2 separate regions of the Homo sapiens genome follow, and region 2 is linked to region 1. The links come from fine-mapping of genetic effects on gene expression. Tissue or cell type: whole blood. Region 1 holds a variant in brackets; the other region holds the start of a gene. All regions are shown on one strand. Distances are between the middles of the regions.

Region 1 (8,099 bases):
AAAAAAATCACCTTCATTGCGCCCAGGGACCACAATCCTCAGGGAAAGTCGAGAAGATTAATGAAACACTCAAAAGGCACTCAAGGAAATTAACACAAGAAACTCACCTCCCATGGAAACTCACCCTCTTGCCCATAGCATTATTAAGGATCCTAAATTCTCCCCACAAGATAGGACTCAGTCCTTATGAAATGCTATATGGACAGCCTTTTCTCACAAACAACCTCTTACTTGATTGAGAAACTGCCAACTTGGTCAAGGACATAACTTCTTTGGCTAGGTACCAGCAAATCCTAAAGACATTACCCGAGGGATGCCACCGAGAAAAGGGAAAAGCATCGTTCCATCCCAGGGATCTAGTATTAGTCAAGTCCCTCCCCTCTACCTCCCCATCCCTAGATCCATCGTGGGAAGGACCATATTTGGTTATCCTCTCCACTCCAACTGCAGTCAAGGTGATTGGAGTGGAGTCTTGGATCCATCACACCTGAATCAAACCTTGGATACAGCCTGAAAAACCCGCAGAATCATTAGCTTGGGAATCTAAGAGTCAGCCAGACAAACCTTCTTACACCCACGAGCCATTGGAAGACTTATGTATCCTCTTTCAGAAGGAAAATTAATCAGTGCTCATAAGTTCTACCTCAGTTCTTGTTTTAAAAACAGAATGTACTCTAACATCCTAACATTCCTTGCCTTTGCCCAAGTCTTAACCTTTCCCCGCTCAATGTCTTCCCCTAATCTTGAGGGAATTATTATTATTATTATTATTTTTTTTTTTTTTTTTTGAGACAGAGTCTCGCTCTGTCGCCCAGGCTGGAGTGCAGTGACGTGATCTCGGCTCACTGCAAGCTCTGCCTTCCGGGTTCACACCATTCTCCTCCCTCAGCCTCCCAAGTAGCTGGGACTACAGGCGCCCACCACCACACCTGGCTAATTTTTTGTATTTTTAGTAGAGACGGGGTTTCACCGTGGTCTCGATCTGCTGACCTCGTGATCTGCCCTCCTCAGCCTCCCAAAGTGCTGGGATTACAGGCGTGAGCCACCGTGCCCGGCCTACCTTGAGGGAATTATAAACATGTCCTCCAGGTTTTTATTTGAAGCACTTCCCAATCAGAGTAACTCATCCTGTTGGGTTTGCATGAACCCTAATTTCCCCCTTATATACAGCAGTTCCGGCCCCCCTCAACATATGGGTGGAAAGCTCTGAGGCCTCATACATAGCTAACACTTCTAAGGGTCCAGGATTTTTTCATCCTAGTGATAGGTCCAATTTCCCTGACAGGGCTCAAGCAGCCTTAAAAGCAGCCGCCGCCATTCTCCGACAATTCGCTCTATCAGCTATCCCAATCATAGGTTCTGTGGGCACAATAACCTCCTTCTCTTCGCCTCCACTCCTTTGTATCTCCCATCAAGTGTTCCCATGATCACAAGGTGTGGGACACGTGGCTGGCTGCAACTATAGCTTGCCTTGGATATAGAGTTCAAATATTCTAATTCTTACAGTACGACTACTGGCACCCCAATGTTTTGTGGAAATAAACATGAGTTCCTTGGAAACCCTATTTCAGTCACCTATCCCTTAAGATTTACCACCCCAAGCCAAATAATTCCCCCACCAGAGGCCAAAACAACAAGCAATTACTGCTGGGGCAGACTTCCTTTTGCCCAGGATATCCCCCTCCTGGGACTTGGTTCCTCTCTCACAGGCAAAGGGTTAAAAAAACCCCATTGCTTCCTGCTTCCTGTCTGGGGTGCGCGAGTTTTTCTTTTTGTTGTTGTTGTTTTGTTTTGTTTTTGAGATGGAGTCTCGCTCTGTCGCCCAGGCTGGAGTGCAGTGGCGCGATCTCCCTCACTGCAAGCTCCGCCTCCCAGGTTTGCACCATTCTCCTGCCTCAGCCTCCCGAGTAGCTGGGACTACAGGCGCCCACCACCACACCCAGCTAATTTTTTGTATTTTTAGTAGAGATGGAGTTTCACCATGTTAGCCAGGATGGTCTTGATCTCCTGACCTCGTGATCCACCAGCCTTGGCCTCCGAAAGTGCTGGGATTACAGGCGTGAGCCACTGCACCCAGCCGAGAGTTTTTCTTAATGCAGCTAGCCACCGGTTTGCCTTACAGGAACCCCATAATACGTCCTTGGCAAATTCTATTCAGCTCCAACTGCTAGGAGTGGCCCATTTGTCCTGAACCCTCAAATCATGGGAATGAGAAATGAATTTAGACTGACCACAGCCCTTATGAGTTTTCAGCTACAGGGGTGTATAGAACCCTGATAAGGAGTTTTCTTTGTGTGTGGAAGATCCTTCTATATTTGCCTCCCCACCAACTGGACAGGAACTTGTACTTTAGCCTACATAGTACCTCCTGTGACTTATTCCTTTTCAGAAGAGGCAGTAGCTGTGCCCATTCATGCTAAGCTTCAGCCGAGAGCAATCTCACTACTTCCTCTATTGGCTGGTTTAGGATTTACTACCACCTAGGAAGTGGACTCACAGCCTAGATGAAATCTCTCTCCAACTTACTCAAATCCAGGACCAAATAGACTCATTAGCAGCTGTGGTTCTCCAGAACCAGTGAGCACTAGATCTCCAATCTCCTCACTGCCGAAAGGGGAGGAACATGCCTTTTTCTGAACAAGGAATGTTGTTTTTATGTCAATAAATCAGGCATAGTGAGAGATGGAATTAAATGACTTCAGGATAGAGCTAGCAGACTACATGGTGGGACAACCGAAACTACCTCAGGGTTCTCACAGCCTGTTCTCCACTGGCTTCTTCCATTTTTAGGTCCCTTCCTTATGATTATTCTAGGAGTAACCTTTGGCCCATGTCTTTTCAGTTCCTTCATCCTTTCGTTTCTTCCTGAATAGAATCAATGAAACTAGAAATGTTACTGCAGATGGAACCTCAGATGACTTCAACCAGCACCTATTATCAAGGACCCCTAAACCAGCCTGCCGGCCCATACCCGGACGTTGACACCCAAACCACCTCTCACGAGGAAACCTCAGCTACAGAACCCCTTCTATGCCCCTATTCAGCAGGAAGCAATTAGAGTGGTCATCCTCCCACACCCCAACAGCAGTTGGGCTCTCCTGTTGAGAGAGGGGACTGAGGGGTGGAGTTGGCAGGATTTACTGGGCAGGTTTGGGGACTTTCACAGAAGACCCCTGTGACTCAGTGTTTTGAGTTCTTAACCAATCGAGTGAAGGATTCAGAATTAACCACTCCAGGCCGGGCGCGGTGGCTCACGCCTGTAATCCCAGCACTTTGGGAGGCCGAGGCGGGCGGATCACGAGGTCAGGAGATTGAGACCATCCTGGCTAACCCGGTGAAACCCTGCCTCTACTAAAAATACAAAAAATTGGCCGGGTGTGGTGGCGGGCGCCTGTGGTCCCAGCTACTGGGGAGGCTGAGGCAGGAGAATGGCGTGAACCCGGGAGGCAGAGCTTGAAGTGAGCCGAGATCGTGCCATTGCACTGCAGCCTGGGCGACAGAGCGAGACTCTGTCTCACTAAAAAAAAAAAAAAAAAAAAACAAAAAAAAAAAACACTCCAGAGGAGGATTGAAAAAAGAACCACTCTCAATGGACAAAAAGAAAGGGGAGGGGTAACATAGGGATATGAGCCCTAGCCACCGGAGCCAGCAACGGCAACCCTTCCGGGTCCCCTTCCAGCATGTGGAAGCTTTCCTTTCGCTTTGTTCAATAAACTGCCCTGCTGCTCACTCTCCTGGTCC[G/C]TGGACTCTTTTTGATCTGTAACACACACCGCGAAGGTCCACAGCTTCATTCTTCAAAGTTAGCGAGACCACGAACCCATCGGCAAGAAAAACTCCCAACTCACTAACAGCCTAGTCCCTTCCCCCTTAAAGGCTGGTGTCTGTCACCCCATACCTGAGCTGGTCCCTCTTCACTAAGTCAGGCTACCAGCATCTTCCTGCTCCTCCGGCTGGGCCCCTGGAGGAGGAAGCTTTCCAAAGCTCTGTCTAGCCCATGTATCCCTCCAGCAGGAAGCTCCAAGGCCTCCTCTGTACTTTGAGGTCGTTCTGGCCCCTGCTATGCTCCAGGCTCAGGGCTATTACACAAGACACCCAATTCAACTCGGTGGGCTGTTGACACCGTCCCTGTCACTGAATCTTGTCTTCACCCCTGTGATTCTCTGAAGAGCCAGTGAATCTCTGTTAATGTTGGTGGAGTTCCAGCCACTGCACTTTTTTTGAGGCAGACTCACTGTGGCTCCGGCTGGAGTGCAGTGGCATGGTCATAGCTCATGGCAGCCCCCAACTCCCGGGCTCATGTAATCCTCCCACCTCAGCCTCCCGAGTAGCTGGGACTGGAGGCGGGAGCCACCATGTCGGGCTAATTGGTTTTTCTGTAGAGATCGGGCCTCCCTAGGTTGCCCAGGCTTACTTAACACTCTTGAACGTCAAAACCCACGCTCAGTACCCGCTTCAAGTGGAAGTCGGTGTTGAGATACAAGCATAGGAACGAACTCAAGGCTAACAGCTGTTCTGTATTCAGAGCCGCACAATCAAGGAAAAACACGATCGGAGGCGGGCCCTGGACGGGAACAAGAAGGGTGGGCTTGACTGGGCGGCCCGCGGTCTTGGTTCCCCTTTCTTCCTTCTGGCTGGCCGGCCGCAGGGTAGGGGGTCCGTGGACCTCCCGGCCTGTAGGGGGCGTCGGGCGCAGCGGAAGGGCCTGCTCCGGAGCCTGGCCAGGGCTGCGCAGTCATGATCACCGAGACCGCGGCGGAGCCTACGGTCCCTGCAGTGCCTGCTGCTGAGGAGGCCACCGAAGCTCGGGGACGCGAGGAGCCGGCGTGGCCCTGGGTGAGCCCAGGCCCAAGCGGGAACGGGCGCGGGGCGGGCGGCGCAGACCCAGGGGCGCGGGCTTCATGCCCCAGCCGTGCCCCCTGTCCCGCAGAAAGACGCCCCGATCCGGACGCTGGTGCAGCGCATCCACCAGCTGCAGGCTGAGCGCGCGCAGGGCTTCCGCCGACTGGAGGAGTGAGTGGGGGCGCGGAGGGGCTCAGGGTTCGGTCCCCCGCCCGCTCCGGGCGTGGGCGTGTTCTCGGCGGGCGTGCCTGGAGGAGGAGCTGGGTCCTTGTGTGGCTGCAGAGTCAGATGGGGCGGGGATTTCGGGGCACCGGGTCCTCACCTTCACGAAAAAGGCCCCACAGCACGTCCCCACTACCCGACGACTCACTCTTCGTGGCTTCTCTCTCCTCCCCAAGAGCAGGGGTGGGCCTGTCTCGCGTTCCCCTGCGGGAGTCAGGAAGCGTCCTTCCTACCTACCAGTCCTCCCCTCTGGTGTCTGGGGACACTTCCTGGGGGCCTTTCAGGTGGTTGGCGCCGGTGCAGGGCCTGAGAGCCTGGGGGCGCGGCCTCAGGGTCCCCACATGCCGCAGAGGCCACCGCCAGTACCTGCGCAGCGGCCCTGACTACGACTTCGCGCGCTACCGGAGCACAGTGCACGGGGTGACCCAGGCCTTCGCCGCCGCCTCGCGGGAGGTGCTGGCGGTGGAAGCAGAGCTGGGCGGGCCTCGCAGGCAGCCGCTGCTCGCCGGCCACGTGCGCAGCCTGCAGGAGCTGGAGCAGACGCGGCTGGGCACGGTGAGGCCACCACCCCTTCCCCGCCGTGTCTCTAGGACCCTGGCCGGCTCCTCTCATGACGCACCCCTGGTTGGGGGGTGGTCCCAGTATCCCATACACAGACCTCACCCCTTCCTGTCCCACCCCAATCCTCTATTAAGGCTTCACTTGGGGATTCTCGGACCTTGCCCTCTGCTGTTCATCCCCAATTTTTTTCCCAAGTTTTGTCCTTATTCCCAGAGCACTCCCGCTTTCTCCCAGCTCCGCCTAAATGCTATTCCAAGATGCCCAGATCCCGCCCCAACAATGCTCCACCCACTCTGGTTGTTCCGCGTCTAGGGTCCCACCCTCAACCTCCCGTAGATACAGGCGAGGGGGGTCCCAGGCCACGCCTCCTCCGTATTATTCCTCCATCACAGCTTTAGTTCTTTGCCTATTTCTCTCTTGCGATCCGCCTGCTCGGCCCTGCAACCGTGTGTGACTGGAATTCCTAGGCCACGCCCCCCATGAGCGACCCGTCTCAGCGTCTCTTTGGCCTTTTTCTTTCTGGTGTTTTTTTTTTTTTTTTTTTTTTTTAAGACAGGCTCTTGCTCTCTTGCTCTCTCACCCAGGCTAGAGTGCAATGGCGCGATCTCGGCTAACGGCAACCTCCGCCTCCCAGATTCAAGCGATTCTCCTGCCTCAGCCTCCTGAGTAGCTGGGATTACAGGCATAATTTTTGTATTTTGTATTTTTTTTAGTAGAGACGGGGTTGTGCCATATGGGCAAGGCTGGTCTCGAACTCCTGGTCTCAAGCGATCCGCCCTCTTCTGCTTCCCGAAGTGCTGGGATTTCAGGCGTGAGCCACCGCGTCCAGGCTTTTTGGCCTACTTTTATCCTGGGTCCCCGTCCCTGGGACCATGAGGCGCAACCTAACCCACCCCTACGGCCAATGCCTGGCTAAGACGTCACTGTTGTTCCCAGGCCACGCCCACATCGCGCTCAGCACTGCCTCTGGCCTGCCTGCTGTCTCCTTTCTGAGAGAGCCTCTAAACTGAATTTCGGACTCTTCCTACACAAAGCACTGCCCCTCGTGGTTCTACCCGGGCACTGCCTTTCTGGGTGCCTCTGTTTTTTCCTGAACATCCTTGGAGGGCAGGGGGTGGGTTCTGCTCGTGGAGACATCCTTCGTGTTGCTCATTCCCCCACCAGGTGGCCCTGCTGCAGTTGATGGAGACGCCAGAGCTGGCGGGGCAGGAGGACGCTGTACGGATGCAGCAGCTGAAAATGAAGTGAGCGCTGCTGCCCAAGCCGCCTGGCTATGCTCGATTTGCACCAGGGTTGGCACGGTCAGGACGCTGCCAGCAGAGGAACCCTCTGCCAGTGCACAATGGTGTTCTCACCTGGTGGCCCTCAGATGTACACTTCCCCAGAGGGCACAGCCGTGAAACTTCACATCAGTTTCGCTGTGCATTGCTGGGACACTGCTGTATACCTCGACACATGCCAATCCTGCACACGTGGCTGTCCGTGGAGCTTGGACATGCCCCACTGAGCACAGACCTTCAGATGCCTGTCCTCAGCCCCCAAGCACACACACTCATGTACACACACATTTGACAAAGTCACACTTCATAACCTCCTAATGGTACACACCCCACCAAGATGGCCTTTTCTTTTCTTTTTTTTCTGAGATGCAGTCTCACTCTGTCACCAGGCTGGAGTGCAGTGGCGCGATCTCAGCTCACTGCAACCTCCGCCTCCCGGGTTCAAGTGATTCCCCTGCCTCAGCCTCCTGAGTAGCTGGGACTACAGGCGCGTGCCACCACGCCCAGCTAATTTTTTGTATTTTAGTAGAGATGGGTTTCACCATGTTGGCCAGGATGGTCTCGATCTCCTGACCTCGTGATCTGCCCACCTCAGCCTCCCAAAGTGCTGGGATTACAGGCGTAAGCCAGCACGCCTGGTCCTTTATTTTCTTTTCTTTTTTCTTTCTTTTTTTTGAGATAGAGTCTTGCTCTGTCACCCAGGCTGGAGTGCAGTGGTGCGGTCTTGGCTTACCGTAACCTCTGCCTCCTAAGTAGCTTGGATTACAGATGCCCGCCACCATGCCTGGCTAATTCTTGTATTTTTAGTAGAGACGGGGATTCGCCATGTTGGCCAGGCTTGTTTTGAACTCCTGACCTCAGGTGATCTGCCTGCCTCAGCTTCCCAAAGTGCTGGATTACAGGCGTGAGCCACCATGCCCAGCCCAGATGGCCTTTTCTCTCAGCCCACTGTGACCTATGGGGCCACCCCTTCTCCCTAGCACCTAAGTGTTCCCTCTTGCTGCTAGTGCTGCCTGGAGGTTTGGCGGCGGGCAGGAGGGCCTGGGGCTCACCACAGCCACAGCCCTCTTGCAGCTTCGCGGCAGCAGCTAATTCACCCCATCTGGGTTTTATTTATAGTTCCCATCCGCTCTTGTAGGGTAATTAAAACCATGGAGGCGATCAGCGAGGTTCTCCAGGACCTTAGGTTTGATGCGG
Region 2 (8,092 bases), 29 kb before region 1:
TCCTGAGCTCAGGCAATCTGCCTGCCTTGGCTTCCCAAAGTGTTAGGATTACAGGCATGAGCCACCGTGCCCGGCCTTTTTTTTTTTTTTTTTTTTTTGAGATGGAGTCTTGCTCTGTTGCCCAGGCTGGAGTGCAGTGGCGTGTTCTTGGCTCACTGCAACCTCTGTCTCCTGGGTTCAAGCAATTCTCCTGCCTCAGGCTCCCGAGTAGCTAGGACTACAGGTGTGCACCACAATGCCCAGCTAATTGTGTGTGTGTGGTGTGTGTGTGTGTGTGTGTGTGTGTTTTAGTAGGGACGGGGTTTCACCATGCTGGCCAGGCTGGTCTCAAACTCCTTACCTCAGGTAATCTGCCCGCCTCGGCCTCCCAGAATGCCGGGATTACAGGCATGAGCCACAGCACCCGGCTAATTTCTTTCTTTCTTTCCCTTCTTTCCCTCCCTCCCTCCCTTCCTTTCTTTCCTTCTTTCTTTTTTTTTTTTTTTTTTGAGATGGAGTTTCGCTCTTGTTGCCCAGGCTGGAGTGCAGTGGTGTGATCTCGGATCACTGCAACCTCTGTCTCCCAGGTTCAAACGATTCTCCTGCCTCAGCCTCCCAAGTAGCTAGGATTACAGGGATGTGCCACCATGCCTGGCTAATTTTGTATTTTTAGTAAAGACAGGGTTACTCCATGTTGGTCAGGCTGGTCTCGAACTCCCGACCTCAGGTGATCTGCCCACCTCAGCCTCCCAAAGTGCTGGGATTACAGGAGTGAGCCACTACACCCGGCCTCTTTCTTTTTTGTTTTGAGACAGAGTTTCGCTCTTGTTGCCCAGGCTGGAGTGCAGTGGGTGATCTCAGCTCACTGCAACCTCTGCCTCCCAGTTCCAAGTGATTCTCCAGTGTCTCGAGTAACTGGGATTACAGGTGCCCACCACCATGCCTGGCTAATTTTTTTGTGTTTTTAATAGAGATGGGGGGGTTTCATCATGTTGGCCCAGGTGGTCTCGAACTCCTGACTTCCTGATCTGCCCACCTCAGCTTCCCACAGTGCTGGGATTACAGGCGTGAATCACTGAGCCCCGACTGATCTTGGTTTCTAAATCCTACTCTTGAAGCAAAGGAACCAGGTTCCTTGGAGAAATGGCTGATTCCAGGGATTTTACACAGCATTGGATCATGTTGTGGAGCCCAAGATAAATAATGCTCAGAGAATGGTGGCGACATATTAAAAGGACACAGGAGCTTATTTATTATTTATTTATTTATTTATTGAGACGGAGTCTTGCTCTGTCGCCCAGGCTGGAGTGCAGTGGCTCGATCTCTGCTCACTGCAAGCTTCGCCTCCCGGGTTTGCACCATTCTCCTGCCTCAGCCTCCCGAGTAGCTAGGACCACAGGCACCTGCCACCACGCCTGGCTAATTTTTTGTATTTTTAGTAGAGATAGGGTTTCACCATGTTAGCCAGGATGGTCTCAATCTCCTGACCTCATGATCCGCCCGCCTCGGCCTCCCAAAGTGCTGGGATTACAGGCGTGAGCCACTGCACCCAGCCAGGAGCTAATTTAAAGGGGCAGGAAAGGAAATAATTATAATTATAATGATGTGGATTTATTAATCCACATCAGTTTATAGCGATTTTTGTTGTTGTTGTTGTTGTTGCTTTTTGAGACAAAGTCTCATTCTGTCACCCAGGCTGGAGTGCAGTGGCACAATCTCGGCTCACTGCAATCTCCGCCTCCCAGGTTCAAGAGATTCTCATGCCTCATCCTCCTGAGTAGCTATGATTATAGCACCTGCCACCACGCCAGGCTAATTTTTTTTTTTTTTTTTTGGATTTTTAGTAGAGACGGGGTTTCACCATGTTGGCCAGTCTGGTCTCAAACTCCCGACCTCAGGTGATCCACACGCCTGGCATCCCAAAGTGCTGGGGTTACAGGCGTGAGCCACTGCGCCGGGCCTGTTTGTTTTTTGAGACTGGGTCTCACTCTGTTGCCCAGGCTGGAGTGGGGTCTTCGTTCACTGCAACTTCTGCCTCCTGGCCTCAAACGATACTCCTACCTCAGCCTCTTGAGAAACTGGGACCACAGGCTCGGGCCACAGGCCCGTTTTTTTTTTTTTTTCCAATTGTAGCTGTGAGGCATTTTATTACAAAAACTTGGTACTCGTATACACAAACTAACATGAACTTAAAATACATTTTCTTCATTTTTTAGCTTGACCTTCTTTTTTTTTTTTGAGACGTGGTCTTGCTCTATCGCCCAAGCTGGAGTGCAGTGGTGCGATCTTGGCTTACTGCAGCCTCTGCCTCCTGGGTTCAAGCGATTCTCCTGCCTCAGCCTCCTGAGTAGCTGGGATTACAGGCTCCCGCCACCACTCCCGACTAATTTTTTTTATTTTTAGTAGAGACAAGGTTTCACCATGTTGGTCAGGCTGGTCTCGAACTCCTGATCTCGTGATCCGCCCGCCTCGGCCTCCCAAAGTGCTCGGATTACAATGACAGGATGTGAGCCACCGCGCCCAGCCTGTAAACCCTTTTGAAAAAATTCCCCAGCGCATTACTCCAAAACAACGTGGAAGTGTAAATGGAAACCAGGGCTGGGCGCGGTGGCTCATGCCTGTAATCCCAGCACTTTGGGAGGCCGAGGCGGGCAGATCACCTGAGGTCGGGAGATCGGGACCCGCCTGACCAACATGGAGAAACCCTGTCTCTACTAAAAACACAAAACTTGCCGGGCATGGTGGCACATGCCTGTAATTCCAGCTACTCCGGAAGGCTGAGGCAGATGAATCGCTTGAACCTGGGAAGCGGAGGTTGCGGTGAGCCGAGATCACGCCATTGTACTCCAGCCTGGGCAACAAGAGCGAAACTCTGTCTCAAAAAAAAAAAAAAAAAAAAAAAAAGGAAACTTGGACCAAAAAAATCAGCAAAAGTGGAGCAGGGATGTCTGAACACAGATGAGTCTAATTCCCTGCTTGGAAAGCAGGACACCTGAGTGTGGTTTGGCCTCTGACCACTGTAGCATTTACGACCTTGGGGAGGGTTACCACTCTGGGACCTCAGTCACACTATCTACAAAATGGGACACTTCTCTCAGCCTTCCTTCTTCCGGGCCGCTTTCAAGCCTGGGCTTCTGGAAATACGCAGGCGCGAGATGAATTGTTTGATTGGCTATTCATTGTGATGCACCCACGAGCTGAAGCTCCGTCTAAGCCCCGCCCTTTCCTGTCGTGACTTAACGCACGCAAGCGGCTCCAGGGTACGTCCCCGCCACGCGCGCTCGCAGGATCGGTGCGTGGTGACGTTTCGCCGGCGCGGGCGCCATCCCGGAAGCGCGAGCAAGGCCGCCAGATGTGCAGGTGCCGCCGCTACCGACGCCGGGGCCGAGTTTGGGGTGGGGCTGGGGACTCCAGGGCCGCGGGGAACCGGTCCGGGTCGGGCGCGGCCCCCGGGCTGCGGTGGGGTGGGGTGCGCCACTGGCCACATCTGGTCATTCCTGCTGCGCACAGGCCTCAGTTTCCCCGTCTGCTCAATGGATACGCAGGCGGCGCTACGGGCTGGATCTGGATCCGGATCAGGGGCATAGGAATTGGGGCCTCCTGTGTTCTGGGTGTGTCGTGTAACCTGGAGCTGGGCGTTGCCCGGTTTGTGCCTCAGTTTCCCTGTATTGTAGGGGACGGGGCGTGAGGGGATATTTGAGCCCCTCCCCACTTGGGGTTTTTCAGAGCTTGGATGGCTGAGTTAAATTCTGTTAAATAACCTGGATATAGAACCGTGGTGCTTCTCTGCCTCTCCCTGTGAGTTTCGGCAACGGAGCCCGCCCCTGTGAGCCTCAGTTTCACTCGGAGATGATTGTGTCTGCCTCGTAACGGTGATTGAGGATGAAATGAAGTGCTCTACAAGTGTTTGCCCGTAATATATTCTTAGAGGCCCCTGGGATGCTCTCAAAATGTTGATTCCCGGGACTTCTTCACACTCCTCTTGGAGAAACAGCCTGTCCTGAGCTCCAGTCGTTATCACCTTTGGTTTCAGTTGCCACAGACAGCACTGTGAGATCTTCATTCTACCTTATTTTCATTTTATGGTTGAAAAAACTGATTCAGAAGGGTGAAGTGGCTCTCCCATGGTCAAACAGCCTACCTCTCTGCGTTTCTTCAATAAATCTACATTTGGAGTTGGGATCAGAGCTCTTGCTGGGTCAATTTCACTGTGTATGTGGGCCAGACTAGCAGTAATCAGGGAAGGCTTCTTGGGAGAGGAAGTTGCGGGGGGACGGGAGGGAGGTGCCAGGAACCCCTCAGCCCTCACATCTGGGAGCCAGAGACAGAAAAGAGTCCTGTTTTGAAGGAGGAGTGTATCCCAGAAGGTCCCAGTACTGTGTCTCACTGGTACTAGCTATGGGCCTCCCTCTCCAGGTGTCTTTTTTTTTTTTTTTTTTTTTTTTTCAGTTGAGATGAAGTCTCCCTCTGTAGCCCACACTAGAATGCAGTGGCTTGATTTTGGCTCATTGCAACCTCTGCCTCCCGGGTTCAAGCGATTCTCCTGCCTCAGCCTCCTGAGTAGCTGGGACTACAGGTGCCCGCCATCATGCCTGGCTAATTTTTGTATTTTTAGTAGAGACGGGGGTTTCACCATGTTCACCAGGCTAGTCTTGAACTCATGACCTCAGGTGATCCACCAGCCTTGGCTTCCCAAAGTGCTGAGATTACAGGCATGAGCACCCGGTCCAGGTATCCTCTTTATACAAGATCATGCTTCTTTGGGAATGTGGAGACTGGGTGTCTCTGCATGGCATGTCATAGGAGTTCAATAACCATAGTTATTATTAGAGGGAAGGGGGTTTTGCTGGGTGTGGCACCTTATTTCTAGAAGGTGCTGCAAACCACTGACCAGATACAGATCACAAATAGATGCTCTTGGCCTCCATGATATCTTGGAAAAAAGTATTGATTGCTGACATTTGTCAATGAGGCAATTTCCCAGAAAAAAAAAATCCCTGTTTCCTTTTTCCTGGAGAAACATCAGAAGTCAGGCAGAAATCAGCTGCTGTAAGAAGCCACTGTCCTGTCACAGCTGGATATTGTGCACCTGTTCAGATTCACACCTTTGTGAGACCCGTGGGCTGTGGCCGTTTGTTGTGACTTAGGTTCACTGGCTGTGTGACAGTGGCCCAGTTTCTCAGTGTCCCTGAGCCTCAGTTTTCTCATCTATAAATAAGAATGATAACAGTATGTATGAGCTTGATGCTTTGTTTAGCATAGAGTAGCTGCTGAATAAATGGGAGAGTACATTAAGTGAGCTCTGAAACCCTTTCTTTCTCTTTCCTTTCTTTCTCTCTTTCTCTGTCTCTCTCTCTTTCTCTCCTCTCTCTTTCTCTCTTTGTCTCTCTCTCTTTCTCTCCTTCTCTCTCTCTTTCTCTCTCTCCCTTCCTTCCTTCCCTCCCTCCCTCCCTTCCTTCCTTCTTTTCGAGATGGAGTCTCACTCTGTCGCCCGGGCTGGAGTGTAGTGGCATGATCTCGGCTCATTGCAACCTCTGCCTCCCAGGTTCAAGCCATTCTCCTGCCTCAGCCATCCAAGTAGCTGCGACTACAGGTGCCCGCCACCATGCCCGGCTAATTTTTTTTGTATTTTTAGTAGAGACTGAGTTTCACTATGTTGGCCAGGCTGGTTTTGAACTCCTGACCTCAAGCAGTCTGCCCACCTCGGCCTCCCAAAGTGCTAGGATTACAGACGTGAGCCACCACACCCGGCCTCTGAAACCCTTTCTGATCCAGTAGAAGTTCGTCTCTGTTTCTTGGCTATTAAATGTGTGGGCCTCAGAGCCAAACTATATCAAGATCCTAGATTTTTCCTGAACTCCCTAGGAGGGTCAGTGCTGTAGCCCCTCCTACCCTGGCTGCTCCGGGAAGTCCCTGCCTGCCATTACGGTCATCTGTGTGCCAGCAAAACTGGGAACCTCAGAACCATCTGGATTGCTGGGGCCCACAGGTTGGCTGTGAGTACCTGCAATTCTTGGCTTTAATTTGCTAATAAAAGTGTCACGTCAGAGCTGAGTTTGAAAAGTTCTGTTGCCCTTCCCCACAACAACATTCTGGCAGCCCCTTGCTATGAGCCAGACTCCGGGTCGGGTTCTGGTGACAGACACACCTCTACTCCTTCTTTTTTTTTTTTGAGACGGAGTCTCTCTGTTGCCCAGGCTGGAGTGCAGTGGCACAGTCTTGGCTCACCACAACCTCCGCCTCCTGGGTTCAAGTGATTCTCCTGCCTCAAGCTCCCGAGTAGCTGGGACTAAAGGTGCCCACCACCATGCCTGGCTAATTTTTGTATTTTTAGTAGAGATGGGGTTTCACTATGTTGGCCAGGCTGGTCTCGAACTCCTGACCTCGTGATCCACCTGCCTCGCCCTCCCAGAGTGCTAGGATTACAGGCGTGAGCCACAGCACCTGGCCACCTCTGCTCTTTTGGAGCTGACGTTGTGGCGGTGACAGGCAAACGGGTTAGCTGATAACTAGGATAATTTCATGAAGAGGTGAACCAGTGAAGCAGTTAAATCAAGGTAAAGGGTGGCTGGGCGCAGTGGCTCAGGCCTGTAATCCTAGCACTTTGGGAGGCCAAGGCAAAAGGGTCGTGTCAGCCTAGGAATTTAAGAGCAGCCTAGGCAACATAGCGAGACCCTGTCTCTTAACAAACAAACAAACAAAAACAAGGTAAAGTAGCCTGGGCGCGGTGGCTCATGCCTGTAATCCCAGCACTTTGGGAGGCTGAGGCGAGTGGATCACCTGAGGTCAGTAGTTCGAGACCAGCCTGGCCAAAATGGTGAAACCCCGTCTCTACTAAAAAATACAAAAATTAGCCAGGCGTGGTGGCGGGCACCTGTAATCCCAGCTACTTGGGAGGGTGAGGCAGGAGAATCGCTTGAACCTGGGAGGCGGAGGTTGCGCTAAGCCAAGATCGCGCCATTGCACTCCAGCCTGGGTGACAGGAGTGAAACTCTGTATCAAAAAGAAATAAAAAAACGAGGTCAAGTAGTAAGAGAAGCGGTAAGAGTGACGGGAACAGGAGTCATTGACCTCTTGGGAGAGGAGACATTGGAGGTGGTGATGATTTGCTGAAGCAGCCACACACGTTCAGCTTGTGAGGACAGCAGTTGTTAGGCAGGGGATGAGGGAGGAAGCTGGCAGATCTGTGCAGGTGAGAGGTACCTGTGGCCTTGGGCTCATGGAAGTGGGAGGTGATGGGATTCTAATGTGCTTGGGTACAGTTTACAAATACAACCTCTCTTAGTTTGCCCAATACCTCCAAATTCCTGGGGTGGCACACCTGAGGTTCAGGTGGCATGACTGAGCCACAGTCACACATCCCCACTGTAGGATACCACCACGGTTGGGTTAGGTTCCAGCACATGGCGGTCCCGGCCTGGCCTCTTGGTCCCACCTCACCTGGTGACTAGTGCAGACCACTCTGTTCTTGCCTGTTTCAGGCAGCGGAGGAGGAGAAAGAGATGGACCTCCCGGACTCGGCCTCGAGGGTCTTCTGCGGCCGCATCCTGAGCATGGTGAACACAGATGATGTCAACGCCATCATCCTGGCCCAGAAGAACATGTGAGTGGCGGCTGGGGGACCTGAGCGTGGGAAGGAATCCACAGGCTGGCCAACATTCTTGTCTTGCCCGCCCCTACCCGGGGCCCACACTGGTGATAAAATGAAGGAAATGAGCAAATCTGTCGCTGGCTCCAAAGTAAATTCCTTCCCGGCCTGGAGGCGAGGCCTTGGCACAGGAAGCAGGGCTTTGGGGAGATTTTGCAGCTGCGGATGGCTTGGCGGGGGCCGCAGGGGCTCCTGTCCCGAGACCTGGGGTGGGAGAGTTGAAGGACCAGAGGGGGCCACATGCAGGTTTTTTTGTTTATTTGTTTCTTGTTTTTGAGACAGAGTTTTGCTCTTGTTGCCCAGGCTAGAGTGCAATGGTGTGACCTTGCCTCACTGCAACCTCCGCCTCCCGAGTTCAAGCGATTTCTCCTGCCTCAGCCCTCTGAGTAGCTGGGATTACAAGCATGTGCCACCATGCCCAGCTAATTTTTGTATTTTTAGTAGAGACGGGCTTTCATCATGTTG

What was found. PIP is the estimated chance that this variant, and not a neighbour inherited with it, causes the effect.
Region 2: KXD1 starts here. The variant in region 1 is fine-mapped to the expression of KXD1 in whole blood (TOPMed, PIP 0.99).

Annotation. Positions count from the first base shown.
Region 1 is chr19:18,584,068-18,592,166 of GRCh38, forward strand. It overlaps REX1BD (required for excision 1-B domain containing), which reads left to right and starts at 4,731. Exons shown (of 5, transcript NM_001100418.2): 1 at 4,731-4,833; 2 at 4,928-5,010; 3 at 5,346-5,616; 4 at 6,787-6,866; 5 at 8,041-8,099. The coding sequence starts at 4,735. RefSeq lists a silencer at 4,559-5,078 and an enhancer at 7,582-8,099. The variant G/C (reference allele first, on the strand shown) is at 3,742.
Region 2 is chr19:18,554,576-18,562,667 of GRCh38, forward strand. It overlaps KXD1 (KxDL motif containing 1), which reads left to right and starts at 3,295. Exons shown (of 5, transcript NM_024069.4): 1 at 3,295-3,339; 2 at 7,461-7,582. The coding sequence starts at 7,482. RefSeq lists enhancers at 2,322-3,113, 3,114-3,903, 7,528-8,092 and a silencer at 3,394-3,553.